Regions from separate parts of the Homo sapiens genome. Here region 2 is linked to region 1. Evidence: fine-mapped expression QTL. Tissue or cell type: whole blood. Region 1 holds a variant in brackets; the other region holds the start of a gene. All regions are shown on one strand. Distances are between the middles of the regions.

Region 1 (8,000 bases):
ACCCCTGTACTCTCCCTCTGTTATTTTCATTAAGTTGTTTATTTATTGTTCAGGCTTTTTTTGCAAGGAGGACAAGTTCTAAGGATTTCTAATGGGTCATTTTCCTAAGGTAACTCAGATCTGGGTTGTTATTATTATTATTATTAAGGAATTTGAGGAGATTTTACAAGAATCTCATTGCTTCCATTCTGTTCAGATCAGAATTCTACCAAAGAGTTCTGAACAGAAAAGTTCCTGATGCTATTTGAGGCTTGGAGAATTAAAATCTTGCCTCCACAGGATGTCCAGGTAGGGTCTCTAATATTTCAGAGACAAGAAGGGCCTGAATTAGGCAAGCAGCAGTAGGTAAAGAAAGAAGAGCGCAAAGTCAAGAAAGATTTAGCAGGTAAAACCGACAGAACCTCATGACTGACATGGAGGCACGAAGAGGGGGGTTTGAGGAGAGGTGCCCCCAGACTTCTGGCTCGGTGATGAGCCGTGTGAGAGCGCCTGCCATCACACTGCATTATGGAATAGCCAAAAGCAGAGAGCAGGTGCTGGTGGAAGCAGTCCAGTCTTCAGCAAGCTGACGTGAATGCATGTAGGTTATCTAATCAGAGACCTACAAATATTTAGGTAGATCATATTTTCCACCTCTGAACTTTGAACACCTCTTATAGCACAAGGACAAAATATCTCTTCTCTGTGTTAGGTATTAATGTCAATACCTTCACTGTAATTTTTCTTTGGACTTGGCTTCAGTATTACTACCTTCTTCTGAATTATCCTTTGAGTTTTTAATCAGTCCTTTAACATTTCCCATCACTTTGCGACAGGTAAACCTGTGACAGGTATAAGTGTCTATGTATGTGTGTACAATTTGATCTCTTCCTGGAATCTGTCTAAAAGCCACTATTTTTTTAAAATTTTTCATTCTAAGTCTATTTGCATCCGGCTAACTCTCAAGTACCTACGATGAGGTACAAAATTCTTCCATGAAGATCACTTTTTATTAAAGTCTCTTACCTTCACCTAAACACCATGCCATTAAGTCACTGTTTTTCAAGGTGTGGTCCATGGGGCAGATGCATTAAATCTACCTTGAATGCTTAGTAATATATAATAATAAAATCTATACTAACTAAGGTTTATTCGGTACATACCATGTGCTAGGTACTGTTCTAAGCCCTTCACAAGTACTGACTCGTGTTATCGTCACAATCATTTTATGAGAAAAGAACTATAATATCCCATTTTACAGAAGAGGAGATTGAGGCAGAGATTAAATAATTTGCCCACATCAAAGGCTAGTAAGTAGGCCCTATCCAGACTTGCTGAATTAAGGGGAGGAACGATCTTGGAAATTTGCAATTTTAAAAAGTGCTCCAGCCCCTAAAAGGAGCTCTCACATGATTCTTTTGTATACTAAAGTTTGAGACTCACTAAATGAAGTACAAACCCTGGTTTCAAAGCATTTTCCCGTAATACGCTACCCACTCACTGATATTCTCCGTACTTCACACTGTGCCCTATTCCTTTAATAATAAAACTCCTCAAATTTACACCTCATCACACACAGAATGTTAGAAATGACAAAACCACAGAAAGGCATCATTTTACAAAGGAGAAAAACCAAGCCCCAGAAAGAGATGAGGAGATCTGTCTGAAGTTACTAAAAGTATTCGGACTAGGACCATAGATCTCCTTTCCACTTCAGTTCTTCCTCCACTATAAAATGCTGAAAAGACTTTCTATAGCATACAGCTTGAGGGGTTTGTTAGGGGCCAGATTATCTTATCTCATCTGGTCAAAGCTGCAACAATAAACACCATTCTATATTTGAAAGCAAAGTGACAAAATGTTTGAATTGGCAGAAAACAAGTTAAAACAATTCTTACGGCTTAATCTAATAGGAATAGTTGGTTCAAAGCCAAATGGTTCAGAGTATATTGAGGATAGGTCACTTTGATGAAATTCATCTCAGGTTTTGCCATTCGGCAATCAGAACTCTCTCACAGAATTAGAGTAAGTCTGTATCTGCACAGAGTAGGGTTTTCTTTTTGTAAACACTGGTGAAATCTAGGTATAAAATCTTTCCCCAATGCAAAGTGCCTTGTAGTCTGCACCCTCCTTCATTCATTCACCACCATTTTTTCCCATTTTTTTTTCTCAAAAGAAGCCTCTGTTAACTCTTTTGCAAGACACCATCTGCCTGTGCCCAGATCACTCCTCTCCTCTCTACATAACCTTATTTTATTAATATCATCTTCCTTTGCTCTTCAATATTTCCTCTTTTCATAGCTCCTTCTCCCTAAGTCTCTCGCACCAGAAAAGAATTGTATATCACTCCACTGCTAAAAAACCGTACTGATGGCCCGGCGTGGTGGCTCGTGCCTGTAATCCCAGCACTTTGGGAGGCCGAGGCGGGTGGATCACCTATGGTCAGGAGTTTGAAACCAGCCTGGCCAACATGGCGAAACCCCGTCTCTACTAAAAATACAAAAATTAGTCGGGCCTGGTGGTGGGCACCTGTAATTCCAGCTACTCAGGAGGCTGAGGCAGGAGAATGGTCTGAACCTGGGAGGCGGAGCTTGCAGTGAGCTGTTAATCGAGCCACTGTACTCCAGCCTGGGCGACAGAACAAGCCTCTGTCTCAGAAAAACAACAACAACAACACCAACAGAAACCATATTGATTATAGAATAAAGCCTAACTTTCTTATGTGATTCATGCCCTTCATAGTCTAGTGACAATTTATTCATCTAATATCAGCTCAACACTCACAAGTCTCCTGCCCACTATTCCTGATGTTTCAGTCATTCAACTCTTTCATCTCTCTGTGGAAAATGATCCATTTGCCTGACTCTCCTTCATCTCCATCTGATGAAGTCTTAATTCATCCTTTAAAATTCAGCTCCAAGGTCACAACCTACCTTCTCTGTGAAGTGTCCTTGACTCCCTGAGAGTAATATCACTCTGCCCCCAAAGAATAACTCCTATACCACACAGTATTTTGACTGCATCTGTCATTGCAACAGAAGGTAAGCTCATTCTTGAATTCATTGAAATATTTACTGAGGCAGTGTGATGTGCCAGGCCCCATGCTAAACCCCAAGGATATAGAAATGAATTATCTTGCAAACACTATGATCTTAAGAGCATATTTTGTGCTTTAAAAAAATCAGATCTTAAGCCCCTGACATGTAATATTTAGAAGGTATATAATACAGTCTCTGTATATGAAAAGTGTTATTTATTTACAAAATGGCAGGACATGAAAAACAAGGTATCAGAGTATTTGCAGTATTTTTTTAAAACTGGTAAGATAATAACTTCTCAGCTCAAACATCTATTTCCCCTTTCCAGTTCTTCTGGAATTGTTAATCCTTAAGAAACATAATGAACAAAATTCACTCTGCCATCTAAAATGACAAAAGAAGTCTGTTTTGGGGCCATATAATCCTTTTCTGTAGGACAAATCTTGGCAGTATATACAATACTTCCTCTCTTCCAATGTGGAAGAAAAAAAAAAACCTTTTGAACCCACCAGTTTTCAAAGATTAACTGTACTCATGCAAAGTTTTAACCTTTCTCTGACACAGGAATGTTCCATATATTTCCACATTCTGACAGGCAAATGCATTCTCCAATTAGCTACTGACCTTTCATGATGAAAATGGGCAATAAGAGTGTATTTCATTTCAGCAACCCTGAGATACTTATAAAGTCAAAGAATATTATATACACATGTTATGGCAAGAAGCTTTTACAAATTTTAAATACCTTAAAAAGCACATGCATTTTCACTGGGAAGTTTTAAGAATACATTCTAAATATTCAGGAGTCCATTAAGTGGCAGAATATTTTACATCTGCCCCGTTCCTAAACAGTAAAATGAAAATTTCATTGTTCTGCTTTAGAAATTAAATTTGACCACTTTGAAATTAAAGGTGCAATATTAACCATGTAACTGTTAAACATTTTACATTTTTCAGAAAATCCTTAAGCATTTATTCAAAATAAAGGTAACAAACATCTACCGTTTTGTGTAAAATAACTATCAGTGACTTAATTTGACAGCGACATTTAAGTTTACCATCAGTGGTAGTTTGAACTATCTACACCTATAGATAGTAATTAGATACATTCTGACAGTTTTCCAGGAAGAGCAAACCACAGACACTTAGTCATGAACTGAAAAGCCAAAGCATTAGATTCTTATATCACATGCAAAATGTTCTCAATTGTGAGCATTTTACTATGCTTAGAAAGTTATTTACAATATATGGATCTCTTTGGTAGCATGTTCTACAGGAAGAACTGCTTCATGATAACAGTTTGTGGGGGCCAGGTGTGGAGGTTCATGCCTGTCATTCCAGCACTTTGGGAGGCTGAGGCAGGAGGATCACATGAGGTAAGGAGTTTGAGACCAGCCTGGCCAACATGGTGAAATCCCAT[C/T]TCTACTAAAAATACAAAAATTAGCCAGGCATGGTGACACACATCTTTAGTCCCAGCTACGTGTGAGGCTGAGGCAGGAGAATTGCTTAAGCCGAGGAGGCAGAGGTTGCAGTGAGCCAAGATCGCGCCACTGCACTCCAGCCTGGGTGACAGAGTGAGACCCAGTCTCAAAAAACAAAAACAAAAACAGTTTGTGAGAGAAAATCAGAGTCTGTCCTTAAACTCACTGGTTTTCCTTTGCTAATATTATGGCTTCTCTTTTAAAATAGCCAAAGGTTTCAACCAGTCTAGCTGCTGCCACCTTCTTATTAAACTTTAATAAGCTAAGCTTTTTAAGCCACATAAAAATTTCATCAAGCATTTGTCAACCTTGGGGAAAACGGAAGGAGGAAAAAAGGTCAGAACATCACTTTCCACCACAGTAGCATCTGGAGAGACGCTTTGGAAGGATCCTGCATGCAGTCAGCCGCAAAATAAATGCTAGGAAACAAGCTCGCAGTTTGTGGCCTGCACCAGATGGTGATTATGTTTCCTCCTTCATCAGCCCCGGCCCCACACTGGGTGCTAATTAAAGCACTATCTTCCAATAGCAGGCTCCTGGGACAACCGTGAGCCTTTGTTCCAACGTCCTCAGGGTGAGCTACACCCAGTCCACTAACACAGGCTTGCCTGTCAACAACACCACTCCAGAGCAGCTCCTTCTCATTTTACTTTCAGTGTTTCGTATGTCAACATATTTTAAAAACAAATCTTTTAGTTTTTTTTTTTTTTTTTTTTAACAGGTATATTACATGTTATAGGAGGGAAAAGGAGGTGGGCTGCCTGGGGCCCTCAAGACATGAGAAACGGGTGGTGGCTTCCAAGCTTCCTTACTTCCCCCATAGATTCCTGACAATGTGCTGCAGAAGCCTCCAACCTGGAACAGCCAACAGGACCAGAGCAGCCCACCACCCGACCCCAGAAAAAGCCGAGAAAAGCCCAACTCCGCTAGCCAAAGTACCAAGAGAAGGATGGCCTAACATCAGAAAACACTTGCAGTAATATTCATTCTACTCCAGCCAGGCGCCAAGGGCAAAATCACAATCCTCCTCCCACCCTGGTCTCACAGAGCCCAGTGGGAATAGGCTCTCCCAGCCCGGCTCCTCAGGAAGAAAAGCTGTGCCCACTGGTCTAATTAACACCCAGAGAACATGCCACCCAACAGCAGAATATTTTTTCTAAGCACCAATGAAACACTGACTAAGACAAACTACATCCTACATCATAAAACAAACTTCAAGAAACAGAAGAGAACTGAAATCATAGAGTATTTCTCTGAGCATAATGGAATCAAACCAGAAATCAGTAACACTAAGATAATAGTAAAATCTTGGCAGGACACAGTGGCTCATGTCTGTAATCCCAGCACTTTGGGAGGCTGAGGTGCACAGATCGCTTGAGGTCAGGAGTTCAAGACCAGCCTGGGCAACACAGTGAAACCTCATCTCTACCAAAAAATACAAGTTAGCCGGACACGGTGGCATGCGCCTGTAATCGCAGCTACTCGGGAGGCAGAGGTCAGAGAATCACTTGAACCCGGGAGGTGGAGGTTGCAGTGAGCTGAGATCGTATCACTGCACTCCAGCCTGGGTGACAGAGTAAGACCCTCTCTCAAAAGGAAAAAAAAAAAAGTAAAATATCTAAACTACTGGAAATTCAATAACATACTTCTCAGTAATGTATGGGTAAAAGAAGAAGTCTCAAAAGAAAAAAATACATAGGACTGAATGAAAATGAAAATACAGCATATCAAAATATGTGAGGCATAGCCTTAAAGAAGTGCTGAGAGAGAAATTTATAGCACTTAATTCTTACATTAGAAAACAGGAAAGCCTTCAAATAAACTAATCACAGACTTAAATGTAAAACATAATATAAAACTTCCAGGAAAAATAGTAGAAAATCTTTGGGATATCTAGGGATAAGTAAAGAATTTTTAGACTTGACACCAAAAGCACAATTCATAAAAGAAAAAATTAATAAACCATAAAAATTAGAAATTTTTGCTTTTCAAAGACCTTGTTAAGAGGTTGAACAAAACAAAATACAGACTGGGAGATAATCTCTGCAAGCCACATATTTGACGAAGGACTTGTATCTGGAATACATAAAAAGCTCTCAAAATTCAACAGTGAAAAACAATCTAGGTAGAAAATGGGCAAAAGACATGAATGGATATTTCACTGAAGAGGATATACGGATGGCAAACAAGCACATAAAAAATGTCTAATTAGAGAAATGCAAACTAAAACCACAAGAGATGTTACTACACAACTCAACAATCACAAGAGATGAAAACACCAAGTGCTGTCGAGAGTGTGGAGGAACTGGATCAGTCATACATTTCTAGCAGGAATGCAAAATGGTATGGCCACTTTGCAAAATGAGTCTAACAGTTTCCTACAGAACTAAATATGCACTTATCTTAACAGCCCAAAAACTTCACTCTTGGAATTTACACTGAACTCAGAAATTACACATTTATCCCAGGGAAACGAAAACTCATGTTTACACCAAAACCTGTATGTGATTGTTCACAGCTGCTTTATTTGTAATAGCCAAAATCTGAAAACATCCCAGATATCCTTCAATGAGCGAGCAATTAAACAAACGGTGGTACATCCAAACCATGGGATATAGTTCGGCCATAAAAAGGAATAAATGACTGATACACATAACAACTTGAAAGTATCTTGGCCGGGCGCAGTGGCTCACGCCTGTAATCCCAGCACTTTGGGAGGCTGAGGTGGGCGGATCACAAGGTCAGGAGATCGAGACCATCCTGGCTAACACGGTGAAACCCCATCTCTACTAAAAATACAAAAAATTAGCCAGGCACGGTGGCAGGCACCTGTAGTCCCAGCTACTCCGGAGGCTGAGGCAGGAGAATGGCGTGAACCTGGGAGGCGGAGCTTGCAGTAAGCTGAGATCCAGCCGCTGCACTCCAGCCTCGGCGACAGTGAGACTACATCTCAAAAAAAAAAAAAAAAAAAAAAAAAAAAGTATCTCAAGGTAATTATGCTGAGTGAGGAAGTGAAGAATTCCAAACTCTAGAGGTTACATACTATATGATTCCACCTATATAACATTTTTTTCTTTATTTTTTTGAAACAGAGTCTCACTCTGTCACCCAGGCTGGAGTGCAGTGGTACGATCATGGCTCACTGCAGCCTCTGCCTCCCAAGTTCAAGCAATTCTCGTGCTTCAGCCTCCTGAATGGATGGGACTACAGGCGCATGGCACCTTGCCCAGCTACATTTTTGTATTTTTAGTGGAGATGGGGTTTGCCATGTTGGCCAGGCTGGTCTTGAACTCCTGACCTCAAGTGATCCACCTGCCTTGGCTTCCCAAAGTGCCGGGATTACAGGTGTGAGCCACCGTGCCTGGCCCATGATTCCACCTATTTAACATTCTTGAAATGACAAAACTATAGAGATGAGAAACAGATTCCTGGTAGATTAGGGAAGGGGGAAGGAGGGAGGTGGCTGTGGTTATAAAAGAGTAGCACAAGGGTTCCTTGTGAT
Region 2 (8,129 bases), 64 kb after region 1:
CAGGTAGCTAAGCCTTAGCTCCCTTCTGCTCCCCTCCATGAAGGTGATTTTTTTTTAACCCAAATCTATGTCTTCATTCCTATTAATTTTTTTAAAGCTATATAGCCCATCATTGTACACATTAAGATCTTTGCAATTCTGACCCTGCTATCAAATATATGTTACATATGCCACGTCTTCATCAAAATCACTGGCACGGCAATAGAAGACCTTCACAAAGAGAAGAGCAGCAGGAGGAAAAATCAGAGGCAGTAAATGTAGATAACGTTTAGAGGTTCGCTGTAAGAGAGAAATGGGGTGGTAGCAGGACAGGGATTTGGTGGAGAGATCAAGTGGTTTTTAAAAAAATTCAAATATTTATAGGCTAATGGAAATCATCATTCAAATGTGAAGGAAAAACACGGTATGTAAAAACATGTCATAAGCTGTAAAGTTCAACATAAATATAATTTATTATATACATCCCCTTTTCTCTTGCCAGCCTATTTATGTTAAAATTTGATTTTTAGAGCCTCCAGCTCTTTCTGAATGTTCAGAGACCCTGCTCCCATGATCATATATCCTTTTTCTCTGAATATTTTGAAATCTGTGTCCAATAGCCCCTGCCTTTGCTGTTATGAATTCAAACATTACATGACCCCTTTCACCCAAATCCTGTTTTCGCATCAATCTCCTCCACTGTTCATGAGAATTTCTAAAAACCGATTTCAGATTCATTAAAGGAACCATTAAAGGCTTCGTCTAATAGGATTACATTTTTAAACATGAAAACCTAAGATTCACTTTTTTGAGTTTTATTGTATCCCTAAGCAAGTTAGCAAAACAAGATTTATTATTTGGTAAAATTATTCTCTAAGGCTGTAACATCCAATCCTGAAAATTTCTATGCAAAGCAAGAAGTGGCCGATACTAAACTCTTCCCCACCAGCACATCTGCATACATAATCACATCATCAACACAGGGCTTTCTCCTCTCCCAACCCCCACTCTGGGGCCAAACAAAAAGTTAGTGTGCACACACATAAAGCACATTTACAATGTCTGCTCCACAGCAGACCCTAGCTAGGCTGCTCCGCAAAGGTACTAAATATTTTGCTCCTAGTTCTAAGCTCACCATTTGAGTAAGTAATAAGAAAGCAACCGTGATCTGTGCATAAATACAAGACATGTTCCTTCAAAACTCCGTTTCTAAACACGAATTCTTTACCAGTTAAAATATAAAATGTGTTAGCCCCAGGCAAATGATTCTACACCCACCAATGCATTCGACTTAATGACAAAGACATATTTTTAAAGTACACTTGTTTATAAGATATCTCATAAAGTATACTACGTAAAGTATAGCACTTGCCAAAATATACTTTTAAAATACCAAAGTGCCTAAGAAAAAAATTGACTATTTGCTCTTTAAAGGGATAGGACAAATAAATGTTATTCAGAAATTCACACGTGCCAAACTGATAGTAGCACTGCAAAGCGAACAGGAAGGTTTCTAGTTTCATAAATCAATCCACAGCTTCAAAATGAGCCATCAGGTTCAACTCTAGGAAAACTATAAAGTTCTTTTGTCTTTATGTTCATTTCTATCAAACACCCTCAAAACAAATTTTCATGAATTTCACGTATTGGCCACAGCTGTTTTTCCACCAGGACCTGTCTGATAACTTTGTGTGTAATCTGAGCATTACTTTGCTTAGTGTCAACGTGCAGTAAGTCCTCAATAAACATGTCAAGAATTCTCCTCAATTCAAAATTATAAGAGCATCAAGGTCATAAAGATGCACTATTTTTTCTAAAACTAAAAAATTGTTAAACTCATTAAATCAAGATTATAATGTAAAATACCCAAGTATTCCAATTTTAAATCATTTTCTTAACACGAATAATTTTAACAGATTTATATCACCATTTCTGTTTCTAAAATAAATTCCTAAGTTCCTACTGCAACAGCAGAAGATTTAGATTTCATATAAACCCATAGGTTTAGAAACTACTGACAGGTAGGCTAACTTACAAAGATCCCAGCAGAAGCTATGCTTCATAGAGACGGATTTTTTTAAATCTGTTTTGTTCACTGCTGTTGCCTCTCCTTCACCAATGCCTTGACTGAGACTGGGCACACAGGATTTCAATTAATATTTGCTGGACTGAAAAACTGCGTATGTGTGAAGACCCTTGGTACAAAGCCAGACTTAAACCACCTGTAGGATCCCCCACCCTCACCCCCACCCCGAGAAAACCTGGAGCAAGCCCCTGTGGGACGGACACAGAATGACCCCTAGGGAATCAAGGAAAGGGAGGCTAAAACTCAAGGGGACTGACTTCACACCCAGTCTTCACACACTGCCCAAATGTGTTCATTTTGTTGCAGTGTCTGAAATCTCACCAACTGAGAGATTCCTCTAGGTTAACAAATCTCCTCTTTTCAGAATTAAGGAACCGTTTAAACCTGTCAACAACCTTAAGAGATGTACATTTCATCATTCCATTTTACAGATGAGCAAACAGGCTAAATGGCAGAGTTACTTTTACAGTGTCACACAATGGACGTAAAGCACAGGCCTGACTCAGAACCTTTAATCCTACAATGCTGCCTCCCCACTGAGAGGGGAACAGGACTAATCTTCATCCATACCTCAATACACATGAGTTAGTTTCCAATACCCTTCTACAGAAACACCTAAAACAAGCTTTCTCAAAGACGGGGCTTTTGTTTGGGGTGACAGGCAAGCAACAAGTAGCTGAAGCACACGAACACCGTGGAGGAAGGATCTGAAGTTCAGACCATGGATTTGGGGTGCCTGATGGAACCAAGCCTCAAAGACAAACCACAGATTTCACAACACTGCAGAGGACCAGCTCTTGCTCCACAACAGCTTGCCTCCCCTTCCTCTTTCTACCCTTCCACGTGACCCTCACGGTTCTCTCCACCAGAAAAGAGGCTACCATTGTTAGTTGCCAGTCTGGCAACACTGTGCATCTCAACCACAGTGACTGGCACAGAGCAGGAACGCAAATATTTACTGAATGAACCCAAGACAAAAGTTGTTTCTACGGCCAAGCTGGGACCCTAACTGCCATTTTTAACACAGTAGAGATGAGATATGCACCTTAAGCACCTGATTACTGGTGTAAAACGGACTTTTCAAAGCCTAGTCTGAGTTGCGGACAGGCTACAGTAAAAGCCTTATGTGATTATTTTTCCCCAGCCAGACTGTCTCAAAGAAGAAAACAGCTTAGCACTTTGGCATACAAATACAGACCTCAGAGGGGCATAATATGTTAGTATCTTAAGAGTGTACAAGCAAATCATGACTTTATTTAGGTTGCCTACTTTAGGTCATCCTAACATGAACAGCAGTTTAGAAAAGAAAAATCCCCTCTCAGCATTCTCAGGGTGACAATGAGGGTGGGGATAATGGCAGATATCTCCCAAAAGTTCAGCGTGGGCCAAAACCCAAAAAATCATATTCCACGATGTGCAAAAGGTTTCTTTCAAACCATGACTAATAATTTAAACAAATACATGTTTACACCAAATAATCAACTAAACAAAGTCCTTGTTCATAGGAAAACATGACATTAAGCCGAATGGTTTCAAAGACAATTCTTGAAAATTTTACCTATTTCCCTTTTGGTCGGCACCCGTGACCTGAAAAGCCTTGGCTAGTAGTTCCGATTAGTGTCAGATCCTCATAATGTGACATTTTCAGGCGTCAAATTACAGTAAAACTACTAGGGCAAGAACAAGAGCCAAAAGCAACAGGGAAGATGTCCATTTTCCATTTACACCCCCCCCCCAATTTACCACTTAAGAAAAACGGCACGTTTTTATATTAGAAAAGGGCCGCATCCTTCCAGATCTAGCGCAGCCTTAAGTCCGTGATTTGAGGAACCTGCCGCTTCCAAAATACAGGCTGAGACGTCCTCCCCATGAAGTAGTTTTGCGCTCTTGCACCACCTCCTTTGTCTACGCTGTCCCTGCAAACTCCTAGCTCAATGCCCTCCAGCAAACGAGCTGCCTGAACGCAAAGATGACCGTTCCAAGTCTTTTTTAAAAGAAGGGAAAAACCCAGTCACGCTCCTGGAGCCTGGTTCCCACGGGAGCAGGCCGGGCTGTCCACGACGGAAGCCTCGACCCTGGCTGGGGCTGTCGGCCGGGCAGCGCGGGAGAGCCAGGGCCAGAGCCGGGGCCGGGAACCCTAGTCCCGCCGCCTACGCGGGATGCAGCGACCACCGCCCGCCGCCCCCGGGCCGGCACTCACCTCCGTGGAGGGGCAGCGGCGCCAGCACCTGGCCGCGGACCTCGGCCTTGGGGGAGTCAAGCCCGTAGCGCCCGCGGTCGATGCGAAACGTGAGCGGGGCGCCGCGGCCGGGCTCCTGCACCGTCACGTTGATGAGCGCCGTGTAGTACTCCTGGCTCGCGTTGTCTGCCCGTGCCGGCCACAGGCTGCAGGTCAGCAGGGCGAGCGCGGCGAGCCGGGCAGGGCCCGCCCGCCCCGCGCAGCTCATCGTCCCTCCGGCAGCCGCCGCTGCTCGCGGACCGGGCTCCGGGGCCGGCGCCTAGAGGCGGGGCGGGCGCGGCCCGGGCGGCGGCGGGAGCGCGCGCGCGCGGCCTGCGCGGGGCCGAGCCCGAGCGCGGCCCTCCTGGACGCCGCGGCCCCGCCGCTCGCCGCCCTCACGTCCACTGCCCGCCTGTGGGGACGCGCCCATGGGCCCTCGGCGAGGGCGGCGTCTCAGGTCGCACGCGGGCGTCTCTTCGGGGTCCCAGGAGGGTTGTAGAAGCGTGCCCCCTCCATCCCCCCGGGTCGGTCCCACCGAATGGGAGGCGCCTCGCAAGGACGCGGCGGGGGAGGGGAAGGGCGGCACGGGAGGAAGCGCCCCGAGGAGGGTCAGCGGAACACAAAGTCCCTCTCGCGCGGCTGCCGCCTGAGGCGCGTGTCCGCCGCCGCCCCGCCCCCCCGCTGGTCTAGCGGCAACGCGCAGGCCTAAGGCGCAGTCCCGCCCCGAGCGCATGCGTGCCAGGGCCTGTCCGCTCCCGCCCGCCTGCACGAGGGCCCGGGCAGCCGGGTCAGCCGCTGGTGCTGGTTGTTTCTCTGTCAGGCGTGATAGCCGCAGGGCGTGGAGCCCGGGAGATTTGCGAGGACGTATGGAAATGTGTGAGAACAGACTACAAAGGAAAAAAAGCCATAACTTTAAAAGAAATGTTTAAAATTAAATGTCATGAGATTTAACATTCACGTCATGCGGTTGACATCATGGATGGGGGATGTCTCTGGCCCGGACCTGCAGGGACACGAGTGGTTGGGAAAGACCTCTAGGGTAGCCGTCCCTAACCATTTTGGCACTGGGGGACGGGTTTCCAGGAAGAGAGTTTTTCCAGGGACTGAGGGAGTTGAAGTGGTTTCCGGATGAGGCTGCTCCACCTCAGATCATCAGGCGTTAGATTCTCGTAAGAAGTGGGCAACCTAGGTCCCAAGCATGCGCAGTTCACAGCCGGGTTCACGTTGCTATGAGAGTCTAATGCCGCCCTGATCTGACAGGAGGCGGAGCTCAGGCGGTGATGCTCACTCACCTCCTGCTCGCTTACTGGTTCCTCGAAGGCCCTGGGCCGGTACAGGTCCGCGGCCGGGCGGTTGGGGAGCCCCTGCTCTAGTGACTAGGTGAACTACTCCAGGGGCCCCCGGACCAGAGGGTTGCAGTGGGAACCCCCCCTCCACCTTCCGAAACGCGCGCGCGCGCACACACACACGACTCTCATTTTCTCTCTCCATGGCGTTTAAAAGATACACATCGCTATAAAGTATCAGCTAAAAGGAAGAATGGGGCAGTGCAGCCGAATTCAGGAACTTACAGGATCTTTGTGGGGAGGCGGAGGGGGAAAGTTTGGCGTCTTCTGACCAGCCAGGGTTGAGTCTCCTGTCTCCTACTGCGGGAAGTGGGTGGAGTCAGCTTTGCACAACCAAATGTTCTGAAAATCCGGAAAAGAGGTGGCTCCCCAAAAAGAAATTTGAGGCACTGTTTCCAGGAAAGGGTACGGATGCAGTGCAGGCTAAAACTTAAGATGCCCACCACTGGCCAGGCGCGGTGGCTCACGCCCGTAATCGCAGCACTTTGGGAGGCCTAGGTGGGCGGATCACGAGGTCAGGAGTTCGAGACCAGCTTGGCCAACATGGTGAAACCCCGTCTCTACTAAAAATAAAAAAATTAGTCGTGGTGATGCGTGCCTGTAGTCCCAGCTACTCGGGAGGCTGAGGCAGGAGAATCGTTGGAACCCGGGAAGCGGAGGTTGCAGTGAGCAGAGATCGAGCCACTGCACTCCAGCCTGGGCGACAGAGCAAGACTCCGTCTCAGAAAAAGAAAAAAGAAAGAAAACAGATGTCCACTATTGATGACTTGGCAGACATCCTTTACAATTTCTCCCTCCATTTCCCTCTCTTCCATCCTCTACCATAGTCCTTATAAACCGTGCCCTGGCCTATGGAGAACGGCTTTTACTTATTTACTTATCCTCGGCAAGTACAGACCCTAGGCCAAAGCAGCGGGGTCCTCGCCCTGGGCCTGGCACCTAAAGAGTGCTCTAATCTGGTCCCCTCCAGCTGGACCCTTCATAGGGCAAGGAGTCCTTAGCACCAAGGTACCCATGCTCTAGCACCTAAGACCCAGAAATTCCTTCTCCCCACAGCCCAGGGCCACATCTAGGGCCTGTGTAGGGCTCTTCCCGGTGACGGTCTCCTGCTCTTCTTGCTGGGCATGCCCTGGCCTACCCCTGCCCAAGAGGCTCATGGCCTCTACTCCTTTGTCCTTATAAAGGAGGAGTCTTCAAACTGTAAGGTGCCCATGACCCCTGGCACAAGAAACAATTATAGAAGCTCACAAGCACCACTTTGTTAATCAGGTGGGGAGGAAGTGGCTTTCTCAACCCTTCTGAATTTGTCAAGGAGAAAATTGGTTCCAGAGCACCTTTAACACTTCCCTGGCACTTGCTGATCTCCCCTTTAAATAAAGCAAGATGAGGTCTCGGTGCACAGCCTCATCACGCACCAGCATGTACGGCAACATTCACACCAGCCTGTACTTGGGAGTGGCATTGTCTTTTAAGGAAACCTCAAGGTTTTAAGGAGACCTTAGGGAGACAAGAAGTTTTTCATTTATAATAGTGATACAACGCTACCTTTTAAAATATTATGGTAAAATACACATAACATAAAATTGTCCATCTTAACCATTTTTAAGCATATGGATCAGTGGCATTAAGTACATTCACATCGTTGTGTAACCTTTGCCATCCATCTCCAGAACTCTTTCCATCTTGTAAAACTGAAACTCTGCACCCATTAAACGTTCCCCCTTCCCCAACTACCATTCTTCTTTTCTGTCTCTATGATTTTGATGATTCTACTTACCCGCATAAGTGGAATCATATAGTATTTGTCCTTTTGTGAGTAGCTTATCTTGCTTTGCACGATGTCCTTGAGGTTCACCTCTGTTGAAGTACGTATCAGATTTCCTCCTTTGCTAAGGCTGAATCATATCACATTGTATGTATATTCCAAGTTTTTTTTTAGCCATTCATCCATTCCACTGTATGTATATAATACACTTTGTTTATCCATTCATCATAGGACACTTGGTTGCCTCTACTGTTTGGCTATTGTGAATAATGATGCTATGAACATTGGGCGTATAAATATCCCTTCCTGCTTTCAATTCTTTTGTGTATATACTCAGAAGTGGAATTACCAGATCTAATGGTAATTCTATGCTTAATTTTTTTCAGGAACTGCCCTACTGTTTTTTTAATAGTAGCTGCCCCATTTTACATTCCCACCAACTGCACAAGGGTTCCAGTTTCTTCTCATCCTTGCCAACACTTCTCTACTTCTTTTTCAAAATAGTAGCCATCTAAATGGGTATTAGGTGGTCTCTCATTATGGTTTTGATTTGCATTTCCCTAATGATTAGTGGTGCTGAACATCTTTTCATGTGCTTATTGGCCATGTGTATATCTTTACACGATGCTATCTTTTAAAACATTTAAGAAAAAAGTGAATTAAAAGTATTGGTTAAATAAAAGTACGAGTGGTTTTATCGGACATGGCAGGTCTCACGGAGGATGTGTGCCGCAG

The links. PIP is the estimated chance that this variant, and not a neighbour inherited with it, causes the effect.
Region 2: it holds the start of RNF130, and the variant in region 1 is fine-mapped to the expression of RNF130 in whole blood (INTERVAL, PIP above 0.99).

Annotation. Positions count from the first base shown.
Region 1 is chr5:180,002,795-180,010,794 of GRCh38, forward strand. All of the region lies in intron 3 of RNF130 (ring finger protein 130), which reads right to left. Among named protein-coding and RNA genes, the nearest start is that of MIR340, 8.6 kb to the right of the region's middle. RefSeq lists an enhancer at 4,756-5,257. The variant C/T (reference allele first, on the strand shown) is at 4,438.
Region 2 is chr5:180,067,191-180,075,319 of GRCh38, forward strand. It overlaps RNF130 (ring finger protein 130), which reads right to left and starts at 4,569. Exons shown (of 9, transcript NM_018434.6): 1 at 4,266-4,569. The coding sequence starts at 4,512. RefSeq lists an enhancer at 4,243-4,950 and a silencer at 4,840-4,919.